2 separate regions of the Homo sapiens genome follow, and region 2 is linked to region 1. The links come from fine-mapping of genetic effects on gene expression. A gene starts in region 1. The other region holds a variant in brackets. All regions are shown on one strand. Distances are between the middles of the regions. Region 1 holds the start of KLK11 (kallikrein related peptidase 11). Region 2 overlaps KLK7 (kallikrein related peptidase 7).

Region 1 (12,857 bases):
TGCCTCAACCTCTCCATCGTCTCCCATGCCACCTGCCATGGTGTGTATCCCGGGAGAATCACGAGCAACATGGTGTGTGCAGGCGGCGTCCCGGGGCAGGATGCCTGCCAGGTGAGCCAGTGCAGGCAGCGTGCGTGGTCACCAGGACAGGAAGTGAAGGGGAGGGGCTGGAAGCAGGAGGGGAACTGATGGAGGATGAATCAGGGAAAGGGGATGCTGCAGAGAGACGGGGTCAAAAAGGAAGGGAGAGGCTGGTTACGGAGGCTCACACCTGTAATCCCAGCACTTTGGGAGGCCGAGGCGGGCGGATCACTTGAGGTCAGGAGTTCAAGACAAGCCTGGCCAACACGGTGAGACTCTGAATCTACTAAAAATACCAGAATTAGCCGGGGGTGGTGGTGCAAGCCTGTGGCCCCAGCTACTTGGAAGGCTGAGGCAGGAGAATCGCTTGATCCCGGGAGGCGGAGGTTGCAGTGAGCTGAGATCACGCCACTGCACTCCAGCCTGGGCGACAGAGCCAGACTCTGTCTCAAAACAAAATAATTAATAATAATAATAATAATAATAATAATAATAATGGAGGAGAGGCCCAGGATAAGGGAGGGAGAGAGACAGGGAGTAAAAGGGAGGACCGGGGAATGGAGGAGGGGGAGGGGCAGGGAGAGAGAGGGAGGAAGGGAACAGAGAAGGAAAGATGGGGCAGGGGTTACAGAGAGAGACAGCAAAACAGACGGAGAGGACTGGGAGCCCAGACAGGGAACCAGCTGTTTCTGGGGCTCTAAGTCTTTCCCATACCATCCTCCAGTTGGTGCTGTCCCAGACTGAGAGAGATTTGAGGATGGCGGTCTCTCCCCTCATTGGTCAGGGCCCCAGCCATTGTCCTTGAGAGAACTCTGTGCTTTTGATGGAGTCCTGCCCACCTTCCCTGGGATTGGTCATTTTTGATGGCACTCTCTCCCCTCATTGGTCAGAACCCCAGGCATTGTCCTTGAGAGAACCTCTATCCTTTATGGAGTCCCACCCTCCTCCCCTGGGATTGGTCATTGATAATAGTGTTCTCTCTCCTCATTGGTCAGGGCCCCAGCCATTGTCCTTGAGAGAATGCTCGACTCTTTATGTTGTCTTGACAGCCTCCCCTGAGATTGGTCATTAATGACTGTGCTCTCTCTCCTCATTGGTCAGGGCCCCAGCCATTGTCCTTGAGAGAACCTCTGTCCTTTATGGAGTTCCACCCTTCTTCCCTGGGATTGGCCCCTAGAGACAGTGGTTCTTCTCTTTTGGTTAGCCATTGCCATTGTCCTCCGGGAAAGTGATTATACTCTTTTGTCTAATGACCAGACTTGGAGCCCTCCCCAAGGCCCAGGACTGGGTTGAAGGGTTGGGGAGGAAAACAGAAATAAGATGTCTCCCTTGTTCAGACAGTACTTCTCTTCCCTTCCAGGGTGATTCTGGGGGCCCCCTGGTGTGTGGGGGAGTCCTTCAAGGTCTGGTGTCCTGGGGGTCTGTGGGGCCCTGTGGACAAGATGGCATCCCTGGAGTCTACACCTATATTTGCAAGTATGTGGACTGGATCCGGATGATCATGAGGAACAACTGACCTGTTTCCTCCACCTCCACCCCCACCCCTTAACTTGGGTACCCCTCTGGCCCTCAGAGCACCAATATCTCCTCCATCACTTCCCCTAGCTCCACTCTTGTTGGCCTGGGAACTTCTTGGAACTTTAACTCCTGCCAGCCCTTCTAAGACCCACGAGCGGGGTGAGAGAAGTGTGCAATAGTCTGGAATAAATATAAATGAAGGAGGGGCCATGTCTGTCCATTTGAAGTCCTCATGCTGGTTGAGACTGGAAGAAGGACTCAGCAGTTTCCCTATCTCATAGGAGTAGAAACAGAGCTCAAATAAGGCCAGGCACAGTGGCTCACACCTGTAATCCCATCACTTTGGGAAGCTGAGGCAGGTGGATCACCTGAGGTCAGGAACTCGGGACCAGCCTGGTCAACATAGTGAAACCCCAACTCTACTAAAAATGCAAAAATTAGCCAGGCATGGTGGCGCATGCCTGTAATCCCAGCTACTCAGGAGGCTGAGACAGGAGAATAGCATGAACCCGTGAGGCAGAGGCTGCAGCGAGCCGAGATTGAACCATTACACTCCAGCCTGGGCGACAGAGCGAGACTCCATCTCAAAAACAAACAAACAAAAAACCCAGTGCTCAAATAGGATGAGGGTCTTCCCTGAGTAGTTACTCAGAAATGGAGTAGAAAAAGTTACTTTTAATAATATAGGCCGGGTGCAGTGGCCCACGCCTGTAATCCCAGCACTTTGGGAGGCCGAGGTGGGAGGATGGCTTGAGCTCAGATTTCGAGATCAGCCTGGCAACACAGTGAAATCTTGTCACTACAAAAACACAAAAAATTAGCTGGGTGTGGTGGTGCGTGCCTGTAGTCCCAGCTACTTGGGAAGCTGAGGTGGGAGGATCACCCGAGCCGGGGAGGTGGAGGCTGCAAAGAGCCGAGATCATGCCACTGCACTCCAGCCTGGGCAATAAAGTGAGACCTTGTCTCAAAAACAAAAACCCAGCAATATAAATAAGACACATGTTTCTTCATCTGGCATAATAGAAATAGTGCCCAGAGCTTATAAGCTTTTCAAGAGTCCACAAAAGACCCGAAAAAGAAAAAGAAAATTGTTAGCTCCAAAATACCAGATGAAAGCTGCAAAGTCAACATTTATGACCATTTAATCCAATGTCCATAAAACGTAGCATTCTTTCCACTAGCCAACTGCAGTTTACTTTCTTGTAATGAAGCATACATTGTATCTTTAATGTGGGACGTGGCTTTGTTCTAATAAGACGAAGGGTGGAGTGCAGGCTTGGAAAGCAGGAGAGCTCAGCCTACGTCTTTAATCCTCCTGCCCACCCCTTGGATTCTGTCTCCACTGGGACTCAAGAGGTGAGGAGAGACCATCTCCCCAAATGCACTGAAGGGAAACTGGAGGAGGGAGGGAGTGAGGGGTGATCATACCAGCGGAGGCACATTTGCTGAGCCCCCCCGCAGTCTGCTCTTTCCAAGTGGACCCTCCTGGAAGCCTGATCCCAACCTCCCCTGCAAGCAGGTCTGTCACCCCCATCTCTCAGATGAAGAAACTGAGCCTTGCAGGGGTGGAGTCCCTTGTCCCCACGTCATAAGGGTAGTCATAGTAGTAGGAAGAGGAAGCACCTAGGTTTGAGGCCAGGGCTGGCTGCTGTCAGAACCTAGGCCCTCCCCTGCCTTGCTCCACACCTGGTCAGGGGAGAGAGGGGAGGAAAGCCAAGGGAAGGGACCTAACTGAAAACAAACAAGCTGGGAGAAGCAGGAATCTGCGCTCGGGTTCCGCAGATGCAGAGGTTGAGGTGGCTGCGGGACTGGAAGTCATCGGGCAGAGGTCTCACAGCAGCCAGTAAGTGAACAGCTGGACTCGGGCTGCCTGGGCGGCAGGGAGAAGCGGGCAGGGGAAGGGTCAGCAGAGGAGCGAGGCCCCAGAGGAGCCCTGGGGTGGAGCACAGCCAAGGGCTCTGTTCCCTTTCCTGGACTCGGCTTCCACAGGCCCTGACCTGCCTCCCCCACCCTCCGGTCCTGCCCCTGTGCCTGGCAGCAGCCCCACCTGTGTGACATCCCAGCACACCCCCCCTCTCCTTGCAAAGGAGAAGGGAGCGGCCTAGGGGAGGCCAGGGGCCCACCTGGGCTGGGGCTGTGGAGAGGGAGTGGCTGGGACGGGAGGAAAAAGAGAGACGGAGATTAGATGGAAGAAGAGGGATTTCAAGACAAATTGCCAGAGATGCAGTCAGAGAGACTGACTGAGAGACACAAAGATAGAAGGAATTAGAGAAAGGGCCACACAGAGCCAGACAGAGAGAGAAGAGTGGAGATGGAGACAGGGACGAGGACAGAGAAAGGCAGACAGACACATAGGGACAGAAAGAGAAAAATCACACAAAGTCAGAATTACTGAATGACAGGGAATGACACATAGAACGAGACACAGATTCAGAGACTCAGGGCAGGGAAAGGAAGGCTGCAGACAGACAGACAGACAGAGGGAGGCTGAGACACAGGGAGAAGAGGGGCTTGGAGAGGTGGCACAGGCAGGCAGCCAGTGCCTCAGAGGCCTCCGGGGAGGGCCCTCACACACACCCCGCCCCGGGGCATTAAGGCAGGGCTTGGAGGCCAGTCATCCTGGGCCCGCCCAGGGCCGCCCCCCTGCCAGCCCGCCTGCCTGGTGCCTGGCACCTGGCGCTCCAACCCAGCCTACCTGCTGTAGCTGCCGCCACTGCCGTCTCCGCCGCCACTGGGCCCCCAGAGCCCCAGCCCCAGAGCCTGTGAGTCCAGGAGGAAAGGGAAGCTGCCCCTCCCCGTCCAGGTGTCAGCCCTCCCCAAGGACACCTGTCCCACTCGGGCACCCATTTCTCCCTCTGCTCTGTCCTTCTCTGCTTGGGTGGGGGTTCCTGGCCTCTCTCTACACCTCTCACCTCCGATGGCTGTCCGCAGCCTCAGTTACCTCTAATCTCCATGGCTTCAGCTGCTGAGCTGGCCCTCTGCTCCCACCCCCGCTGGCCAGGGCAGCGGAGGGCACTGGCCCTCCCCTCGACCAGCCCCGCCCAGCTTTGCTTGGCTGTCCTTCAAAAGGGCAGGGGTTTGGCGGACAGGGCTTCAGCAAGCCGGGTGATGGGGGTCCCAGACATTGTCTGGGGCTGAGCCCCCTACTCCCCTCCAGCAGACCTCAAAGGCTCCATATCGCTCTGCTGCGAAGACAATGAAAAAGGGGTGGCTACGGAACGGTGTCTGGTTCCCCTTGTCCTTCCACCCCAAGCTGCTGGGGCCTGGCCAGCTCTCAAGGCAAGAAGGAAAACATCCTCTGACATGTGCCGGGGAGGTCCCATGGCTGACTTGAACAGGGCCGAACCATGGCTTGACAGCTCAAAGCCCCTCCCAACGACTTCCACATGGTTCTTGGTATCTCGGAAGCTTCTAGCTGTGACCAGGCCCTCTCCAAGGCCACCCTAGACACCTAAGATATATTTTAAGTGTTTGGAGATCTGAGTGCTGTGAGAAACAGGGGATTTCCCCAACCTTGTTTCTCCCAAGTGGGGAGCGGGAGCAGGTGAGGGAGAGAGGAGAGGGCATGAGCCAGCCCCCCCCTCCCGATTTCCCCGTAAAGTGATGCGGCCCCATGTCCCTCCTTGTTCCCAGAGGAACCTGGGGCCCGCTCCTCCCCCCTCCAGGCCATGAGGATTCTGCAGTTAATCCTGCTTGCTCTGGCAACAGGTACGCAGGGGATGGGGGCAGGGCAGGATCCTCCCTCTTGAATCTCTGGGATCCCCTAACCCTCTGTGTCTGGACAGTGACAGGGCTGATTCCAAATTACAGAACAACCCATAAGGCACCTGAACTGGAGCAGTGGTCATGAGGGCCTGGATGCCCTTCTAGATAATCCCTTTAAATGCCAAAGGAGGAGAGGTCAAGGGGGTCGTAAAGGGTCCCGTGGAGGGGCTGAGGAAGCTGGAGTTGGGGGAGCAGTCACTCAAAGCGCCCAGGACAGGGGCTACTGACCAACCAGTATGGAAGTATTTCCTTTTTTTTTTTTCCCAGAGACAAAGTCTTGCTCTATTGTCCAGGCTGGAGTGCCGTGGTGCCAACACGGCTCACTGCAGTCTTGACTTCCCGGGCTTAAGTGATCCTTAAGCCATCTCAGCTTCCCCGGTAGCTGGGACCACAGGCACCTGCCACCAAGCCAGGCTAATTGTTTAATTGTTTGTAGAGATGGGGGAGGAGGTCTCACTATGTTTGCCTAGGCTGATCTAGAACTCCTGGGCTCAAGTAATCCTCCCACCTTAGCCTCTCAAAGTGCTGGGATTACAGGCATGAGCCACTGCATTTGACCTTATGGAAGTATTTTCATCCTTTAATACCCGACCCCAGCATCCAGGGCAACCCAGAGGGACACCAGACCAGGGCCCAGACCACCCACTCTCTTTCTCTCCTCCCCACCCCCATTTCTGGGAGTCCTCCTGGTCTACCACCTCTCCTTCCTGAGCCCCTTCTTTTGCTCTCACCCCCTCCAGGGCTTGTAGGGGGAGAGACCAGGATCATCAAGGGGTTCGAGTGCAAGCCTCACTCCCAGCCCTGGCAGGCAGCCCTGTTCGAGAAGACGCGGCTACTCTGTGGGGCGACGCTCATCGCCCCCAGATGGCTCCTGACAGCAGCCCACTGCCTCAAGCCGTGGGTGCGGGGGCTGGGGCGGTGCCGGGGTGGGGGGCTGGGAATGGGGAGATGGATGGAGAGAAGCTCAGGGATAGGGGTGCTGGTAAGGGGATTAGAGATGGGGATGGGTAGTGTCAGCAAGGTTGATGGGCTCGAGTTGGTATTGAAGGTGGGGGGATGAATGGGGTTGGGATGGGGCTATGGCTGGGAAGGGGGCTTCGGTGGGAGACGTGGAAGAGGTTGGAAGCAGAGCGATGTTTCTTCATCCTCAAAGGTGTCACTCACCTCTCCCACCCATGTCTCCCCCGACCTTTCCTCCTCCAACTACTGTCTCTCCCACCTCAGCCGCTACATAGTTCACCTGGGGCAGCACAACCTCCAGAAGGAGGAGGGCTGTGAGCAGACCCGGACAGCCACTGAGTCCTTCCCCCACCCCGGCTTCAACAACAGCCTCCCCAACAAAGACCACCGCAATGACATCATGCTGGTGAAGATGGCATCGCCAGTCTCCATCACCTGGGCTGTGCGACCCCTCACCCTCTCCTCACGCTGTGTCACTGCTGGCACCAGCTGCCTCATTTCCGGCTGGGGCAGCACGTCCAGCCCCCAGTGTAGGAGCACCAGAGGGGAACCTGGCAGGGGGTGGTGAGGAGGGAGTGGTCAGGATTGTGGAAGGGTTCAGGGCATCAGAGATGCGGTTCACAGTGACGATGTGGGATAAGTTGAGAGGATGTGTGGAAAACGTCAGGATAGGGGGGTGGGGACAAAAGTTGGGGCCTTGGAGTCAGACGGACGGGATATGCAATCATACATCCATAACCTCCTGGTTGTAAGACCTTAGGCAAGCAGCTTCACCTCTCTGAATCTTGATTTTCTTCTCTATAAAATGAGAATGATTATACCCACCTGTCAGGATTGGATTAGAGATAATGTATATCAAGCAACTGACATAAATCATTTATTGGATAGCAGGCTGGGCACCGTGGCTCACGCCTGTAATCCCAGCACTTTGGGAGGCCGAGGTGGGAAGATCACCTGAGGTCAGGACTTTGATACCAGCCTGGCCAACGTGGTGAAATCCCATCTCTACTAAAAATGTGAAAATTAGTTGGGCGTGGTTGTGTGCGCCTGTAATCCCAGCTACTCGGGAGGTTGAGGCAGGAGAATCGCTTAAACTTGGGAGACGGAGGTTGCAGTGAGCCAAGATCACGCCACTGCACTCCAGCCTGGGCAACAGAGCAAGACTCTGTCTCGAAAAAAAAAAAAAAAAAGCTGGATAGCATTGCTGTTGCTATTGTTACAAGAAGAGAGGTGAGTTGGCTGCGTCTAAGGACAGGGATTCCCCCAGGGGCGGGATCACAGCAAGCACTGCATTAGGGGAGGTGGCAGGGGGCTCATTCCCACAGCCCCTCACGCTGTTTCCACAGTACGCCTGCCTCACACCTTGCGATGCGCCAACATCACCATCATTGAGCACCAGAAGTGTGAGAACGCCTACCCCGGCAACATCACAGACACCATGGTGTGTGCCAGCGTGCAGGAAGGGGGCAAGGACTCCTGCCAGGTCAGTGTGGTCTCCAACCACAGCCCCATCCCCATCCCCAGCTTCAATGACATCTTTACCGACATCCACAATTTCATCCCCAACCTCAACCCGCCGACCCCTGCAACTCCCAATCCATCTCTTCCCCTGTTCCCGTTTCTGACCTCAGCACAAACTTCAGCTCCATCCCCGTTTCCACACCATTTCCAGCTCCAACCATCCCCAAACTCGTTTTTGAGCCTAACCCCATCCTTTATCCCACCCATAATCCCAGCTTTATCGCTAAACCTATCACCTTTCCCAGTGCCTACCCATCCTGTCTCGGCCCCACTCCTAAGCACCGTCCCCACCTCCTCCCTGGCTAACACCATGCTCAACGCTTTCTCTGACCGACATTCTCTCTCCCCGTGCCCAGGGTGACTCCGGGGGCCCTCTGGTCTGTAACCAGTCTCTTCAAGGCATTATCTCCTGGGGCCAGGATCCGTGTGCGATCACCCGAAAGCCTGGTGTCTACACGAAAGTCTGCAAATATGTGGACTGGATCCAGGAGACGATGAAGAACAATTAGACTGGACCCACCCACCACAGCCCATCACCCTCCATTTCCACTTGGTGTTTGGTTCCTGTTCACTCTGTTAATAAGAAACCCTAAGCCAAGACCCTCTACGAACATTCTTTGGGCCTCCTGGACTACAGGAGATGCTGTCACTTAATAATCAACCTGGGGTTCGAAATCAGTGAGACCTGGATTCAAATTCTGCCTTGAAATATTGTGACTCTGGGAATGACAACACCTGGTTTGTTCTCTGTTGTATCCCCAGCCCCAAAGACAGCTCCTGGCCATATATCAAGGTTTCAATAAATATTTGCTAAATGAGTGAATCTACTGAGTGCTTACTATGTGCTAGACCCTGATCCAATGGCTTTTATTTTATTTTATTTTTTGACAGAGTCTCGCTCTGTCACCCAGGCTGGAGTACAGTGGTGCTATCTCTGCTCACTGCAACCTCCACCTCCTGGGTTCAAGCAATTCTCCTGCCTCAGCCTCCTGAATAGCTGGGATTACAGGTGCCTACCACCACATCCGGCTAATTTTTGTATTTTTTAGTAGAGATGGGGCTTCACCATGTTGGCCAGGCTGGTCTCGAACTCCTGACCTCAGATGATCTGCCCTCCTTGGCCTCCCAAACTCCTGGGATTACAGACGTGAGCCACCGCGCCCGCCCGGCTTTCATTTATTAATTAAAAGAAATTAAATTAATTAATCTATTTAGGAGACAGTCTTGCTCTGTTGCCCAGGCTGGAGTGCAGTAACAATCACAGCTCACGGCAATCTCAATTTCCTGGGGTCAAGTGATTGTCCTCCCTCAGCCTCCAGAGTAGCTGGGACTACAGGCACATGCCACGAAGCCCAGCTAATTTTTGTATTTTTCGTAGAGACAGAGGTCTCAGTATGTTGCCCCGGCTAGTCTCAAACTCCTGGGCTCAAGCAGTCTGTCCTCCTCAGCCTCCAAAAGTGGTGAGATTACAGGCATGAGTCGCTGTGCCTGGCCTCCAAGCACTTTCAAATGTATCAACTTAATCCTCACAAAACCCTGTGAGGTCGGTACTGTTTTCATACCTATTTTATAGTTGAAGAAACAGACACAGAGAAGCAAAGTCACTTGCTCACAGTCACGTGGCTAGGAGAGCAAGGATCTGAAGCAAGGCGATCTCTTAATTACCAAGTGATGTTCCTGGAGTAAGGCTCTGTTTGTTTCCTTTCCTGTAAAATGCTGCATGCAAAAGTATAACACAGTAAGTAAAGAAGTCAGTTAGCCTGCACATACTAAGACCTAACCAAAGGAGCTTATTGTTTTTCTCCAACTTCCATGATAGGTAATTAGATAGTGGAGACCTCTGCTGGCCAATATGGTAGCCACTAACCGCAGCTGGCTCTTCCAATTAAAATTACATAAAGCCAGAAATGTAACTCCTCTGTCTCACTTGTTATATCTCCAAGGCTGGATAGCCACATGTGACTGGTGGTGGCTGGATTAGCTAGTGCATATAAAACATCACTGCAGAAAGTTCAGCTGAGCAGCACTGAGTTAGATGGCCTCTGAAGAGGATGTCCCACGGAGAGAATCCAGAACTCAGGATCTTTTTTTTTTTTTTTCTTTGCGACAGAGTCTTGCTCTGTCACCCAGGCTGGAGTGCAGTGGCGTGATCTCGGCTCACTGCAACTTCTGCCTCCCAGGTTCAAGCAATTCTCCTGCCTCAGCCTCCCTAGTAGCTGGGACTACAGGCCTGTGCCAACATCCCCAGCTAATTTTTGTGTCTTTTTAGTAGAGATGGGGTTTCACTATGTTGGCCAGGCTGGTCTCGAACTCCTGACCTCGTGATCCGCCCCCCCTTGGCCTCCCAAAGTGCTGGGATTACAGGCGTGAGCCACCGCGCCCGGCCAGCTCAGGATCTTTTGGGATGGTCTGTTCACCTCGCAGAAGTGGCTGGCATGAGCAATAGGAGCCCAGAGTGGAACCAGGGCCTTCTGGTTGTCAAGTGGACTTGCTGTGTGACCTCCTGTGAGTCTCTGCCCTCTCTGAGCCTCTCACTCCTCACCTGAGATGAGGGAGTTGGCTGAGGTGATGCCGATGCCCCTCACAGCTTTGACCTCCTATGATTCAGGGGCCTGTGTGTCACCTGGTGGCACACAGATGGCAGGGAGGGTGTGAGATGGCCACACATGGGTATGAGGCAGAGCCACAGCCCCCCCCAACACGCACATGGGCTAGTCACTGGGACACACACAGAGCTCACTCACGGCCACAGAGTGGGCGTGGGTTTCCCTTTTTCCTTGTTTCTGTTTCTCTTAGCCTCGGCGCCTCCCTCCCTCCCTCTCTCTCTCTCTCTCTCTCTCTCTCTCTCTCTCTCTGGCTCTTTTAGCCTTGGTTTGTTACAATCTCCCTTTTCAAGCCAGCCTCTGTCCCTCCTACTCAACCTGCTTTATCTCTAGGCCTTCCTCCTTCCTCTTCCACAGTCTGGCTTCTCACATTGTCACTCTAGGTATGCACTTCCCATTGATTTCCTCTTGCTCAGTGGCCTCTCATCCTGCCACCCCTAGCCTTGCTGGGGACGTGAACCCTCTCCCCGCGCCTGGGAAGCCTTCTTGGCACCGGGACCCGGAGAATCCCCACGGAAGCCAGTTCCAAAAGGGATGAAAAGGGGGCGTTTCGGGCACTGGGAGAAGCCTGTATTCCAGGGCCCCTCCCAGAGCAGGAATCTGGGACCCAGGAGTGCCAGCCTCACCCACGGTACAATTAGACAGAGGGAAAGGGAGGGAGCCCGGGGGTGGGGGTAGGGGAGGGTGGAGAAGCTTCCGGACTCCTTGGGGTTAAAAGGGAAGGTCCCGCCAGGGGTCCCTGGGCAGAGGATACCAGCGGCAGACCACAGGCAGGGCAGAGGCACGTCTGGGTCCCCTCCCTCCTTCCTATCGGCGACTCCCAGGTGAAGCTACCTGCACCCCACCCGGGTTGGGGTGGATTGCGAGAGGATGGGTGGGGACCCCCGGGCCACAGGCAGGAGCCGGCTTAGAGCCTCGGTTTCTCCACCTGCGGGACGCGGAAGTCCCCCCGCTGTGAGGTTGAGAAAGAGGCTCCCACTGGCTCCGAGCCTCGGATCCCCACCCCGCGCGTGAAGGAGGGGGAAACCTCGGGCGCGGCGTGGCTGCAGCCAGGGTAGCTGGGGCGCGGAGAGCGCTCCACTCGGGCACAGGGAGGACGGGAAGATGCCGCGAGGGGCGTCATTAGGGTAATTGTGCCCATTACCGCTGTTCCAGCCCGAATCTCCCGTCTGCCAGCCCCTGGGGTTATCGGCTGCAGGTCAAAAGGGTGCTTGCGGGCTGGGGTGGCCCAGGCTGGGCGGATGAGCGCGGCGAGGTGGGGGTCTCTAACGGAGCATCTGTTTTAACCCGCCCCTGCACACACCCCAGCAGATCCTGGCCATGAGAGCTCCGCACCTCCACCTCTCCGCCGCCTCTGGCGCCCGGGCTCTGGCGAAGCTGCTGCCGCTGCTGATGGCGCAACTCTGGGGTAAGGTCGGGGGCAGGGGGCGGGGAGAGGCGCCGGTGGGAGGCACGGGCGGGAGGAGAATGTGTTCCCGTCACCAAGCCCCGCGCACCTCTCCTCCCCCGAGACCCCAGCACCCACCCAGCGCTCCGGAGCACGGCCCGCCCCCAAGTCAGCTGGGCCCTTCTTCTGGCTCGGCCCCTGGGTGACCCGCCCCACTCAGGCCCTGTCCGATTTCTGCCACCCGGATCCTCGCTCTTCCGTGGACTCTTCGCCGCGTTCTTTCTCCTCCTCTTACGCCGCCCCATCCCGGCCCCGCTCCATTTTACACTACCGTGTTTTGTTTTGTTTGTTTGTTTGTTTGAGACGGAGTCTCGCTCTGTCGCCCAGGCTGGAGTGCAGTGACGCGATCTCGGCTCACTGCAAGCTCCGCCTCCCGGGTTCACACCATTCTCCTGCCTCAGCCTCCCGAGTAGCTGGGACTACAGGCGCCCGCCACCAAGCCCGGCTAGTTTTTTGTATTTTTAGTAGAGATGGGATTTCACCGTGGTCTCGATCTCCTGGCCTCGTGATCCGCCTGCCTCGGCCTCCCAAAGTGCTGGGATTACAAGCGTGAGCCACCGCTCCCGGCCACACCACCGTGTTTTATCCTGAGTCTTGCCTTACCGCTTTTTGCCCTCTCCCCTCACTTTTTTTCTTCCTCTTTCCCTTTCTCTCTCTTTTTTCTTTTTCTTTCTTTCTTTTCTTTCTTTCGTTCTTCTTTTCCTTCCTTCCTTTCCTTCCTTCCTTTCGTTTGTTTCTTCTTTCTTGTTTTACTTTCTCTCTTATTTTTTCTTCTTTCTTTCTTGTTTTTTTCTTTCTCTCTCTTTTTCTTTCCTTCTTTTTTTTTTTTTTTTTTTTTTGAGACAGGGCAGTGCTCTGTCTCCGTGGCTGGAGTACAGTGGCCCAATCAGAGCTCACTGCAGCCTCGACCTCCTGGGCTCAAGCGATACTCAGCCTCCAGAGTAGCTGGTACCACAGGCATG
Region 2 (10,844 bases), 49 kb after region 1:
TACGCTGGGCGACAGGAGAGCTCAGAGGATCAAGGCCTCGAAGTCATTCCGCCACCCCGGCTACTCCACACAGACCCATGTTAATGACCTCATGCTCGTGAAGCTCAATAGCCAGGCCAGGCTGTCATCCATGGTGAAGAAAGTCAGGCTGCCCTCCCGCTGCGAACCCCCTGGAACCACCTGTACTGTCTCCGGCTGGGGCACTACCACGAGCCCAGATGGTAGGTGGCCTCAGTGACCCAGGAGTGCAGGCCCCAGCCCTCCTCCCTCAGACCCAGGAGTCCAGGCCCCCAGCCCCTCCTCCCTCAGACCCAGGAGTCCAGGCCTCAGCCCCTCCTCCCTCAGACCCAGGAGTCCAGGCCCCCAGCCCCTCCTCCCTCAGACCCGGGAGTCCAGACCCCAGCCCCTCCTCCCTCAGACCCAGCAGTCCTGGGCCCCAGACCCTCCTCCCTCGGAACCAGGAGCCTGAACAACAGCCCTTCTGGTCCTCGCCCCCATCCTCTCTGACTGACAGCTCTCCCTGCTCCTCCCTGCAGTGACCTTTCCCTCTGACCTCATGTGCGTGGATGTCAAGCTCATCTCCCCCCAGGACTGCACGAAGGTTTACAAGGACTTACTGGAAAATTCCATGCTGTGCGCTGGCATCCCCGACTCCAAGAAAAACGCCTGCAATGTGAGACCCTCCCCCCCAATTCCTCCCCAGTCCTGGGTACCCTGTCTGCATGCCCCAGGGACAGAGCTTGACCCGAGTGACTGGGTACCAAGCCCGGCCTTGCCCTCCCCCCAGGCCTGGCCTCCTCAGCTTTTTCCACCTCATTCTCTGCCTAGGTCAGGGGTGGGAGTTTACTTAGGGGCCAATGTGGCCCTGGGGATGAGACAGAGAGTTTAATAGGGGTGAGAAAGTGGGGGTGGGACCAGGGAAGGAGACTGAGGTGCTGGCCTCAGGCCCAAACCTTAAGGGGGCACCAAAAACCTCAGTGATTGAGATAAATCATAATGCAATATTTAAAAATAAAAATAAAAACTCATGCAGAAGTCCATGATGGACAAAATGTCACATTTTAAATAAAGAGCAGGTGGATCTTACTGAATTTTCCCTTGCCGTAAGTACTAGCGTGGCTCAGCACAGCGCTGTACTGGCACTGTCTTCATTTAAAATGTGGATACCATGCCCATCATGCAGTTTTATGTATTACATTTGATTTCGTTAAGTACTGCATTGAAGTATTGTGTATTGCAGTTACTGAGATTTTGTGCCTGAAGCTGATGACTCACTCACCTGACCCTGGCCCTGGTCCCGGGGAAAACACTCTTTCTCTCCACCTCCTCTCTGTTCCCTCTTTCTGGCCTTTTGTCATCCCCTCTGTTTCTGAACAGTCTTCCCACATCTCTCTTTGTGACATAATTTCATTTCATTCTTTTCCTCTTTGTTTTTTCTCTGTGTTGAGCTAGCTTGCTCTCCCTCCCTTGTTCTCTCTCCATGCCCTCCTCTCTGCTCTCTGTCTTCTCCCTCTTTCTCTTGCTTCTCTCTCTCTCCTCCCCTCCCTCTCTCCTCTCCCTGCCCCCCTGCTCTCTCTTTTTTCCTCTCTCTCTGTCTCCTCTCTGGCCCTCTCCTCTTTCTCTCTCTCCCCCACTTCTCTGTCTCTCTTCATCTCTCTCCCTCATCTCTCCTTGCCCCCTCCTTTTTACTGTCTCTCTCTTTCTCTTTCTTCTATCTCTCTCCTCTCCCTGCCGCTCCCCCATCTCTGTCTTTCTTTCTCTCTCTTTATTCTCCTCCTCTCTTCCAGTCTCTCTCTCCTCTCCCCACCCCCACCCCATCTCTCTCCCCACACCTTCCCCCCCTTTCTCTTTGTCTCTCTCTTCTCCCTCTTTCTTCTCCACCCCCATCTCTCTCTCTCTTCTCTTCCCACACCCTCCCCATCTCCCTCATCTCTTTGTCTGTCTCTCTTCTCCCTCCTTCTTTTCCACCCCCATCTCTCTGTCTCTCTCTCTCCCCATACCCTTTCCCTCTTCCTCATCTCTCTTTGTCTCTCTCTCCTTTCCCTCTTTCTTCTCCACCTCCAACTCTCTCTGTCTCTCCACACCCATCCTCCTTGCTCACATCTGCACCTTCAGCTGTCAGGGGATGTGGGATGGTGAGTGTTAGGGATAGAGGAGATGGGAGAGAGATGACTGTCCTAGAGAATAGGGTGTTCCCCTTCTCCCCTGGTGAGGGCCAGTTTCATGAATGTGCAAGCTCTGCACGGACACAGAGCCCCACACTCAGAAGGGTCTCAAACTTAGTCTAATGCATTCCTGCTGTTGTCTTGAAATTCTCAATAATTTTTGAACAAAGGGCCCTGCATTTTCGTTTTGCACCAAGTCCTGTAAATTATGTAACTGGTCTTCACCCTGGTCTCCGAGACCATCGTGTCCCCCTTTCCTGCGCCACAGGGCACGCATCCACCCCTTGGAGATGATGTTCCTTCTCCCACTAGCTTGGAGCAGGGTCCTTAACATTGGAAAATAAAGAGTGCTCTGATCCTGGAAGCCCCACCCCTTCTCTGCAATTGGTCTCATTGGCCAAGGGTCAAACCAGTGTCTTCAAAGGACCTAGTGTGTCCCTAGCACTAGCTCTCCCATTAGTCCCCAGAGACAATGAGTCTCTTCTCATTGGCTATGGTGGAAGTCCATAATCTGCAAGACAAAGACCGATAACTGAGGAATGTATGAGAATGAGTTGGGCTTTGATCTGAAGCCAAAGTTAATCTCCGGCTCTATTCCCTCTAGGGTGACTCAGGGGGACCGTTGGTGTGCAGAGGTACCCTGCAAGGTCTGGTGTCCTGGGGAACTTTCCCTTGCGGCCAACCCAATGACCCAGGAGTCTACACTCAAGTGTGCAAGTTCACCAAGTGGATAAATGACACCATGAAAAAGCATCGCTAACGCCACACTGAGTTAATTAACTGTGTGCTTCCAACAGAAAATGCACAGGAGTGAGGACGCCGATGACCTATGAAGTCAAATTTGACTTTACCTTTCCTCAAAGATATATTTAAACCAACCTCATGCCCTGTTGATAAACCAATCAAATTGGTAAAGACCTAAAACCAAAACAAATAAAGAAACACAAAACCCTCAGTGCTGGAGAAGAGTCAGTGAGACCAGCACTCTCAAACACTGGAACTGGACGTTCGTACAGTCTTTACGGAAGACACTTGGTCAACGTACACCGAGACCCTTATTCACCACCTTTGACCCAGTAACTCTAATCTTAGGAAGAACCTACTGAAACAAAAAAAATCCAAAATGTAGAACAAGACTTGAATTTACCATGATATTATTTATCACAGAAATGAAGTGAAACCATCAAACATGTTCCAAAAGTACCAGATGGCTTAAATAATAGTCTGGCTTGGCACAACGATGTTTTTTTTCTTTGAGACAGAGTCTCTGTTGCTTGGGCTGCAATGCAGTGATGCAATCTTGGCTCACTGCAACCTCCGCCTCCTGGGTTCAAGTGATTCTCGTGCTTCAGCCTCCCAAGTACCTGGGACTACAGGTGTGCACCACCACACCAGGCTAATTTTTTGTGTATTTTTACTAGAGACAGGGTTTCACCATGTTGGCCAGC[A/G]TGGTCTTGAACGCCTGACCTCAGATGATCCACCCACCTTGGCCTCCCAAAGTGCTGGGATTACAGGCATGAGCCACCACGGCCAGCCCACAATGATATTACAAACCTATTAAAAATGATACTTAGACAGAATTGTCAGTATTATTCAAGAACATTTAGGCTATAGGATGTTAAATGACAAAAGGAAGGACAAAAATATATATGTATGTGACCCTACCCATAAAAAATGAAATATTCACAGAATCAGATCTGAAAACACATGTCCCAGACTGCATACTGGGGTCGTCATGAGGTGTCTCCTTCCTTCTGTGTACTTTTCCTTGAATGTGCACTTTTATAACATGAAAAATAAAGGTGGGGAAAAAAGTCTGAAGATCTAAGATTGGAGAGAGGTGACCTTTCAGGAAGGGAGACTAGAAAGAAATATGTGCCTGGTTTTGAGCCCTGGTCCTGCCGGCCCTGTTCCAGGGCATATTTCCATTTCCCAGATCTCAGTTTTTCCTGTCTGTAAAATGGGAGAGAGAGGAAAGGATGGAGAGAGGAAGAAGGAAGGGAGGAGGGAGGAGAGAACAGGCCAACTTCATCAGCGTGGGAAGGGGTGTGAAAGTGTTTCTGAGCATCTCACGAGTGACAAGTGAGGAGGGAGGCTGGCGGTTTTCAGAGGGATTGGGATGACAGTAGACAGGACACAGGGGTCCCACGGGGGTCTGCCAGAAGTAAGCAAACAGTGCCGGAGGAAGATGGTGGCACCTGCTCCCCAAGAAGGGAGGGAAAGGAACCTCGGGAAGCGGGTAGGATGAGGGAGGAGTCCTCTGTGACTCAGAGCCTGGCCACAGCCCCAGCCATCTAACATCAAAGATCCTCTGTGTGGTCACACCTCAGACGCTGCTGACCGAGGAGCCACTCCAGCCCAGGACACGCCCTCCTACCTGTTCTTCCTGTTTTTCTCCCAGAATTCCCTCCCCACCAAGATCCTCCAGATCCTTCCCCTCCTTATCTCATCTCCCTCTGAGTCTCTCCTAACCCAGGCACCACAGCCCTGTCATATTGCAGAAATTCTGCAGCCGCTAATTCTGATTCTCCCATATAGGAGGCTAACACAGAAAACGCAGGAGTCCAGGCCCCCAGCCCCTCCTCCCTCAGACCCAGGAGTCCAGACCCCCCAGCCCCTCCTCCCTCAGACCCAGGAATCCAGACTCCCCCCAGCCCCTCCTCCCTCAGACCCAGGAGTCCAGAACCCCAGCCCCTCCTCCCTCAGACCCAGGAATCCAGACTCCCCCCAGCCCCTCCTCCCTCAGACCCAGGAGTCCAGACCAGCCCCAGCCCCTCCTCCCTCAGACCCAGGAGTGCAGGCCTGCCCCCACGAGCCCCTCCTCCCTCAGACCCAGGAATCCAGACTCCCCCCAGCCCCTCCTCCCTCAGACCCAGGAGTTCAGAACCCCCCCCACCAGCCCCTCCTCCCTCAGACCCAGGAATCCAGACTCCCTCCAGCCCCTCCTCCCTCAGACCCAGGAGTTCAGACCCCCCTGCCAGCCCCTCCTCCCTCAGACCCAGGAATCCAGACTCCCCCCCAGCCCCTCCTCCCTCAGACCCAGGAGTCCAGACTCCCCCCCAGCCCCTCCTCCCTCAGACCCAGGAGTCTAGACTACCCCCAGCCCCTCCTCCCTCAGACCCAGGAGTTCAGACCCCCCCCCCCGCCAGCCCCTCCTCCCTCAGACCCAGGAGTCCAGACCGCCCCCAGCCCCTCCTTCCTCAGACCCAGGAGTCCAGACTCCCCCCAGCCCCTCCTCCCTCAGACCCAGGAGTTCAGACCGCTCCCCGCCGCCAGCCCCTCCTCCCTCAGACCCAGGAATCCAGACTCCCCCCAGCCCCTCCTCCCTCAGGCCCAGGAGTCCAGATCCCCCCCAGCCCCTCCTTCCTCAGACCCAGGAGTCCAGACCCCCCGCCCCAACCCCTCCTCCCTCAGACCCAGGAGTCCAGGCTCCCCCCCAGCCCCTCCTTCCTCAGACCCAAGAGTCCAGACCCCCCGCCCCAACCCCTCCTCCCTCAGACCCAGGAGCCCAGGTCCCCAGCCCCTTCTGTTTCTGGGCCTGTCAAGTTTAAGAATGTCAAACATTTTCGACCAGTCATTCCCCTGAAGTTTTAGCAACATTTTCTCTCTCTTCTGCAAGGCACTCCAACATTCAATCTGGAATTTTAAAAAGTAACAAAACATTGCATTTGCACTAAGTCAGCCTGGAGATCCCTGGCCCTGGCCCTCTGCTCTCCTATACGCAAGCTACAGGTAGATTGGTTTGCAATGACTGAGATGGTACTAATGTTGATTTTTTTTAAGTAATTCATTTTTCTTTGGGTAAGCAGTATAGTGTGGTAGTTAAGGGACTAGCTCTGGATCTTGGCTTCTTGGGTTCAAATCCCAGTTCTAGTCCCTACAAGCTATTTTCCTTTAAGCTCATTACTTCCCCTGTCCCTGTTCCTTCATCCTTGAAATGGGAGAAAAAGCACCTACTTTCTAGGGTTATTACAGAGATTCAATAAGTTAATATACAGAAAGTGCTCAAACATTGTGTGGCACGAGGTAAGCCTTCCTTCAATGGTCATTGGTTTTAGTTTAGTTTAGTTTAGTTTAGTTTTTCTTTTTTTTTGAGACAAAGTCTTGCTCTTGTCACCCAGGCTGGAGTGCAATGGCGCGATCTCAGCTCACTGCAACCTCTGCCTCCCAGGTTCAAGTGATTCTCCTGCCTCAGCCTCCTGAGTAGCTGGTATTACAGGTGCCTGCCACCATGCCCGGCTAATTTTTGTATTTTCAGTAGAGACCAAGTTTCACCACGTTGGCCAGGCTGTCCTCAAACTCCTGACCTCAGGCAATCTGCCCGCCTTGACCTCCCAAAGTGCTGAGATTACAGGCATGAGCCACCGCGCCTGGCCCAGGCATTGGTTTTTATTGTTTATGACTTCTGGCACTTTTTTCTGCTTACAGTCTCATGAAGTTTCCTTATAATTTTTTTTTTCTTTTTTTCACATAGGGTCTTGCTCTATCATCCAGGCTAGAGTTTGGTGGCATGATCATAGCTCACTGCAGCCTCAGTCTCCTGGGCTCAAACAATCCTTTTGCCTCAGCCTTTCGAGTAGCTGGGACCATGCCTGGGCTGATTTTTTTTTTTTTTTTTAGTAGAGACGGGGTCTCACTATGTTGTCCAGGCTGGTCTCTAATTCCTGAGCTCAAGTAATCCTCCCACCTCAGCCCTCCAAAGTGCTGGGATTACAGGTGTGAACCACTGCACCGAGACAGAAGAATTTATTTAGTGAAGAGTTTTGCAGAGCAAGACAATCTGGAGCAAACTATCCAGTAAATAAGCATTCAAAGTATGCAGAGATGGCAAACCATGAAGGTCACCAGAGAAGAGGTAGAGTTAGAAATTTCTTTCTCTTCAAAGTCCCTCCACTCCCCACAGCCTAACACCTCCCTTCTTTCCCCACCCAGCTCTCAACAATTCCTCCCAAGTTCACTCACCTCGTACTGTCATAAGATAGACCCAGCCAGGCCACCAAGGGATGGGCCACATCCACGCCATGTTGGAAGCTGAGTTCCCATTCAGGCTCCACCATTTCCTGGATGTTTGATGATGAGCAATGAACTTCCCGTTCTGAGCCTCAGTTTTCTTATCTGTAAAATGGGAGTGGGTGTGATAAAGTCATTTAGTCATTTGGTCAGTCTTGCCTAAGGCTTCTTCTGGGCAAGGTCCTGTGTGGTTGCTTGGGACACAGGGATGAGTCAGTCCCGTACCTGCCCTCAAGGAGCTCACGGTCCAGTGGAAGAGATGACGAATGTCAATCCAGGTGGCCCCCCGTCCAGGTTGGGTTGAGGGAGACACCTGCTGTGGGAACCTACGTGAGAGAATGAGTAATCCAACTACAGCAGGTGGCAGCTGGGTGGTGTTCAGGGAAGGTTTCCTGGAGGAGGTAATGTCCAAGTAAAGACTTGAAGGACAGGTTATTGCCAGGAAAAGGTGGGGAAAACATGCTAAGAAGAGAGAATAGGCCAGGCACGGTGGCTCACGCCTGTAATCCCAGCACTTTGGGAGACCGAGGCAGGCAGATCACCTGAGGTCAGGAGTTCATGACCAGCCTGGCCAACATGGTGAAACCCCATCTCTACTAAAAATATAGGCATGGTGGTGTGTGCCTGTAATCCCAGCTACTCGGGAGGCTGAGGCTGGAGAATTGCTTGAACCCAGCAGGCGAAGAGAGATCGCGCCACATCACTCCAGCCTGGGCGACAGAGCGAGACTCCATCTCAAGAAGAAGAGGGAATAGCATTCAGTGAAGGGCCAGAGGCCAGAGGGCATGGCATGGGTCAGGGAAGCTTGATGTGTTCTAGAAAGCTGGAGCCACACGGAGACGTAGACATAGCTGTGTCATGCAGTGTGAGGGCCACTCACCACTCAGGACTCCTTTTAAAAAAATTTTTGACAGGGTCTGGCTCTGTCACACTGAAGTGCAGTGGCGTGATTATGGCTTACTGCAACCTGGGCCTCCAGGCTCAAGCAACTATCCCACCTCAGCCTTCTGCATAGCTGGGACCACAGATGTGTGCCACCACACCTAGGTAATTTTTTTCTTTTCTTTTTTTTGTTTTTTTTTTTAGAGATAGGGTCTCACTATATTGTCCAGGCTGGTCTCGAACTCCTAGGCTCAAGTGATCTTCCCACCTCTGCCTCCCAAAGTGCTTGGATTACAGGCATGAGCCACCTTGCCCAGCCATGTCAGGCTGGGGTGCAGTGGTATAGTCACAGCTCACTGCAGGCTCGACCTCCCAGGCTCAGCAATTCTCCCGCCTCAGCCTCCGGAGTAGCTGGGACTACAAGTGTGCACCACCACATCTGGCTAATTTTTTTACTTTTTGCAGAGATGGTTTCTCACTATGTTGCCCAGGCTGGTCATGAACTTCCGGACTCAAGCTATCTACCCACCTTGGCCTCTCAAAGTGCTGGGATTACAGACATGAGCCACCATGCCTGGCCTTAAATTTATTTTTTAATTGACAAGTAAAAATTGTATATATTTCTGGTGTATAACATCATGTTTGATATATGTATGTATATGTTGTGGAATGGCTAAACCAAGCTATTTAACATATGCATTATTTTACACCCTTATTTTTTGTGGTAAGGACACTTAAAAAATCTTCTGACTTAAAAAAAAAAGTATGGTGATTGGAAAATGTAAATGTGCATGCGTGCTTGGCATCACATTTCATTGGCCAGGACTTCCCTGGATGCTAAAGGTCCTCAAATGCCAGGCTGGGGGGCTGGGACTTGGTCCCAAGGGAGATGGGGACCCAGGGCACGTCTGTGAGAGGAGGGGCAAGGTCAGCACAAGGCACAGGAAGGTCTCTCTGGGGCAAGGGATACAGAGAACAGAGGGATCCTGGTCCAGGTGGGAGAGGTGCAGCTCTGAGTTGGGGTTGAGGGTGTGGGTACAGAGAGGAAGGGACCCCCCAGAGAGAGGAGGCAGAGGGATAGGGCCTGGTCACTGGGTTGTGCAACATCAGACTTGCTGTCTGTGAAGATAGCACGTCCTGAGAAGAAGGTGCTGAGGTCAGTGGGGACCAAATGTGAGAGGGAGCACCCGGAGAGTATACTGAATACCGAAGTAGTCTTCATCCCTGGAGTGATGGGGGGTGCACAATGCAAGATGACAATTAGATTCAATGCAAGACAAAGAAAAGGGTTGGCTGGGAACAGTGGCTCATGCCTATGGTCCCAGCTCCTGGGAAGACTGAGGCGGGAGGGTCGCTTGAGCCCAGGAGGGTTGAGGCTGCCACGAGCAAGGATCGTGCCACTGCACTCCAGCCTAGGCGACAGAACAAGACCTTGTCTCAAAAGAAAAAAGAACTTTTTTTTTTAAGTTACCTGTAGTGCCCAGCCCAAGCAGGTGCTGAGCCAGACTTCATTCCTATCATTGTCCTTATTACGCAGTGACTTCCCCCTCCTCATTTCTCTCCACTCTGCCACGCACACACCCTCACCCTCCAGCCCATACCAACCACCCCAACCACTGCCTGTGGTTTCCCATGTGCACCCAGGCCAGGCATTTTCACGGCCTTTCCTCCTGACCTACGCCTGGCTCAGCTTTCTAGGCCCAAGTTCAAAGACACCTCCCTAAATCTTCCCAGATCCCTCTGCTACTGCCCAGCACCACCATCTTATCACAGCCCCACGTCGTTCCCAAGTGCTCTCCGATTTCTGCTTAACTCCATGCCTCTCGCTGTGTGTCCGCATCTCATCAATAAGTCCTCAAGTCCTCTTCCATCCTGCTAGCTTCCTCATCGCTCGGGAATCATCCCCGCTACTTCCTGGGGAAACTGACTCCCTTCTGGGCACACACAGTGCTACCCCCGGGGAAATCTAAGAAGAGACCCAGGAGAAGATAAGCACGGAGAGTCAGAGAATCAAGGGGAAAGAAAGGGAGAGAGGCCGGGCACAGTGGCTCACACCTGTAATCCAGCACTTTGGGAGGCCAAGGTGGGTGGATCACCTGAGGTCAGGAGTTTGAGACCAGCCTGGCCAACATGGTGAAACCTCTTCCCTACTAAAAATACAAAAAACATTTAGCCGGGCGTGGTGGTGGGTGCCTGTAATCCCAGCTACTTGGGAAGCTGAGGCAGGAGAACTGCTTGAACTCAGGAGGCGGAGGTTGCAGTGAACTGAGATCACACCACTGCACTCCAGCCTGAGTGACAGAGCAAGACTCCGTCAAAAAAAAAGAAAGAAAGAAAGAAAAGAAGGAAGGAAAGAAAGAAGGAAGGAAGGAAGGGAGGAAGGGAGAGAGGAAGGGAGAGAGGAAGGGAGAGAGAGAAAAAAAGAGGGAGAGAGACACAAATACAGAGACTGAGATGGGAGAGAGAGAGAGATGGAAGCTCCCTCCCCTCCATGGCCAGGGAGACAGATGGAGCAAGAGACCTCAGGGGTGGGCAGACTTGGAGGAGAAGGACCAGGAGGATGTGGAGTGCCGAAATCTCCAGTCAGGGCCAGGTGGGCAGTCAGAGACTGCAAAGGAGGACTGTCAGACAGGGACAAAAGGAAGCCATTGATGTAACCGCCCTCCCGCCTGCCCGCCGGAAGAGAGGTTGAGGCCGGAGCTGCTGGGAGCATGGCACTGGGGTGCTGGGGGCGGACAAAGCCCGATTGTTCCTGGGCCCTTTCCCCATCGCGCCTGGGCCTGCTCC

The links.
Region 2: its variant is fine-mapped to the expression of KLK11 in lung (TOPMed, PIP 0.96).

What each region holds. Positions count from the first base shown.
Region 1 is chr19:51,018,042-51,030,898 of GRCh38, reverse strand. KLK11 (kallikrein related peptidase 11) reads left to right here and starts at 4,283. Exons shown (of 6, transcript NM_001136032.3): 1 at 4,283-4,361; 2 at 5,233-5,307; 3 at 6,105-6,261; 4 at 6,589-6,854; 5 at 7,671-7,807; 6 at 8,202-8,663. The coding sequence starts at 5,268. The coding sequence ends at 8,354. It overlaps KLK12 (kallikrein related peptidase 12), which reads left to right. Exons shown (of 6, transcript NM_001370125.1): 5 at 1-111; 6 at 1,442-1,805. The coding sequence ends at 1,597. It overlaps KLK10 (kallikrein related peptidase 10), which reads left to right and starts at 11,190. Exons shown (of 6, transcript NM_145888.3): 1 at 11,190-11,272; 2 at 11,760-11,856. The coding sequence starts at 11,769. RefSeq lists a silencer at 708-939 and enhancers at 2,972-3,528, 4,088-4,645, 4,646-5,204.
Region 2 is chr19:50,969,617-50,980,460 of GRCh38, reverse strand. It overlaps KLK7 (kallikrein related peptidase 7), which reads left to right. Exons shown (of 6, transcript NM_005046.4): 4 at 1-221; 5 at 537-673; 6 at 2,770-3,993. The coding sequence ends at 2,925. LOC105372442 (a long non-coding RNA gene) reads right to left here. Exons shown (of 7, transcript XR_007067308.1): 5 at 7,401-7,501; 6 at 7,128-7,280; 7 at 5,735-5,801. Among named protein-coding and RNA genes, the nearest start is that of KLK6, 5.4 kb to the right of the region's middle. The variant A/G (reference allele first, on the strand shown) is at 3,614.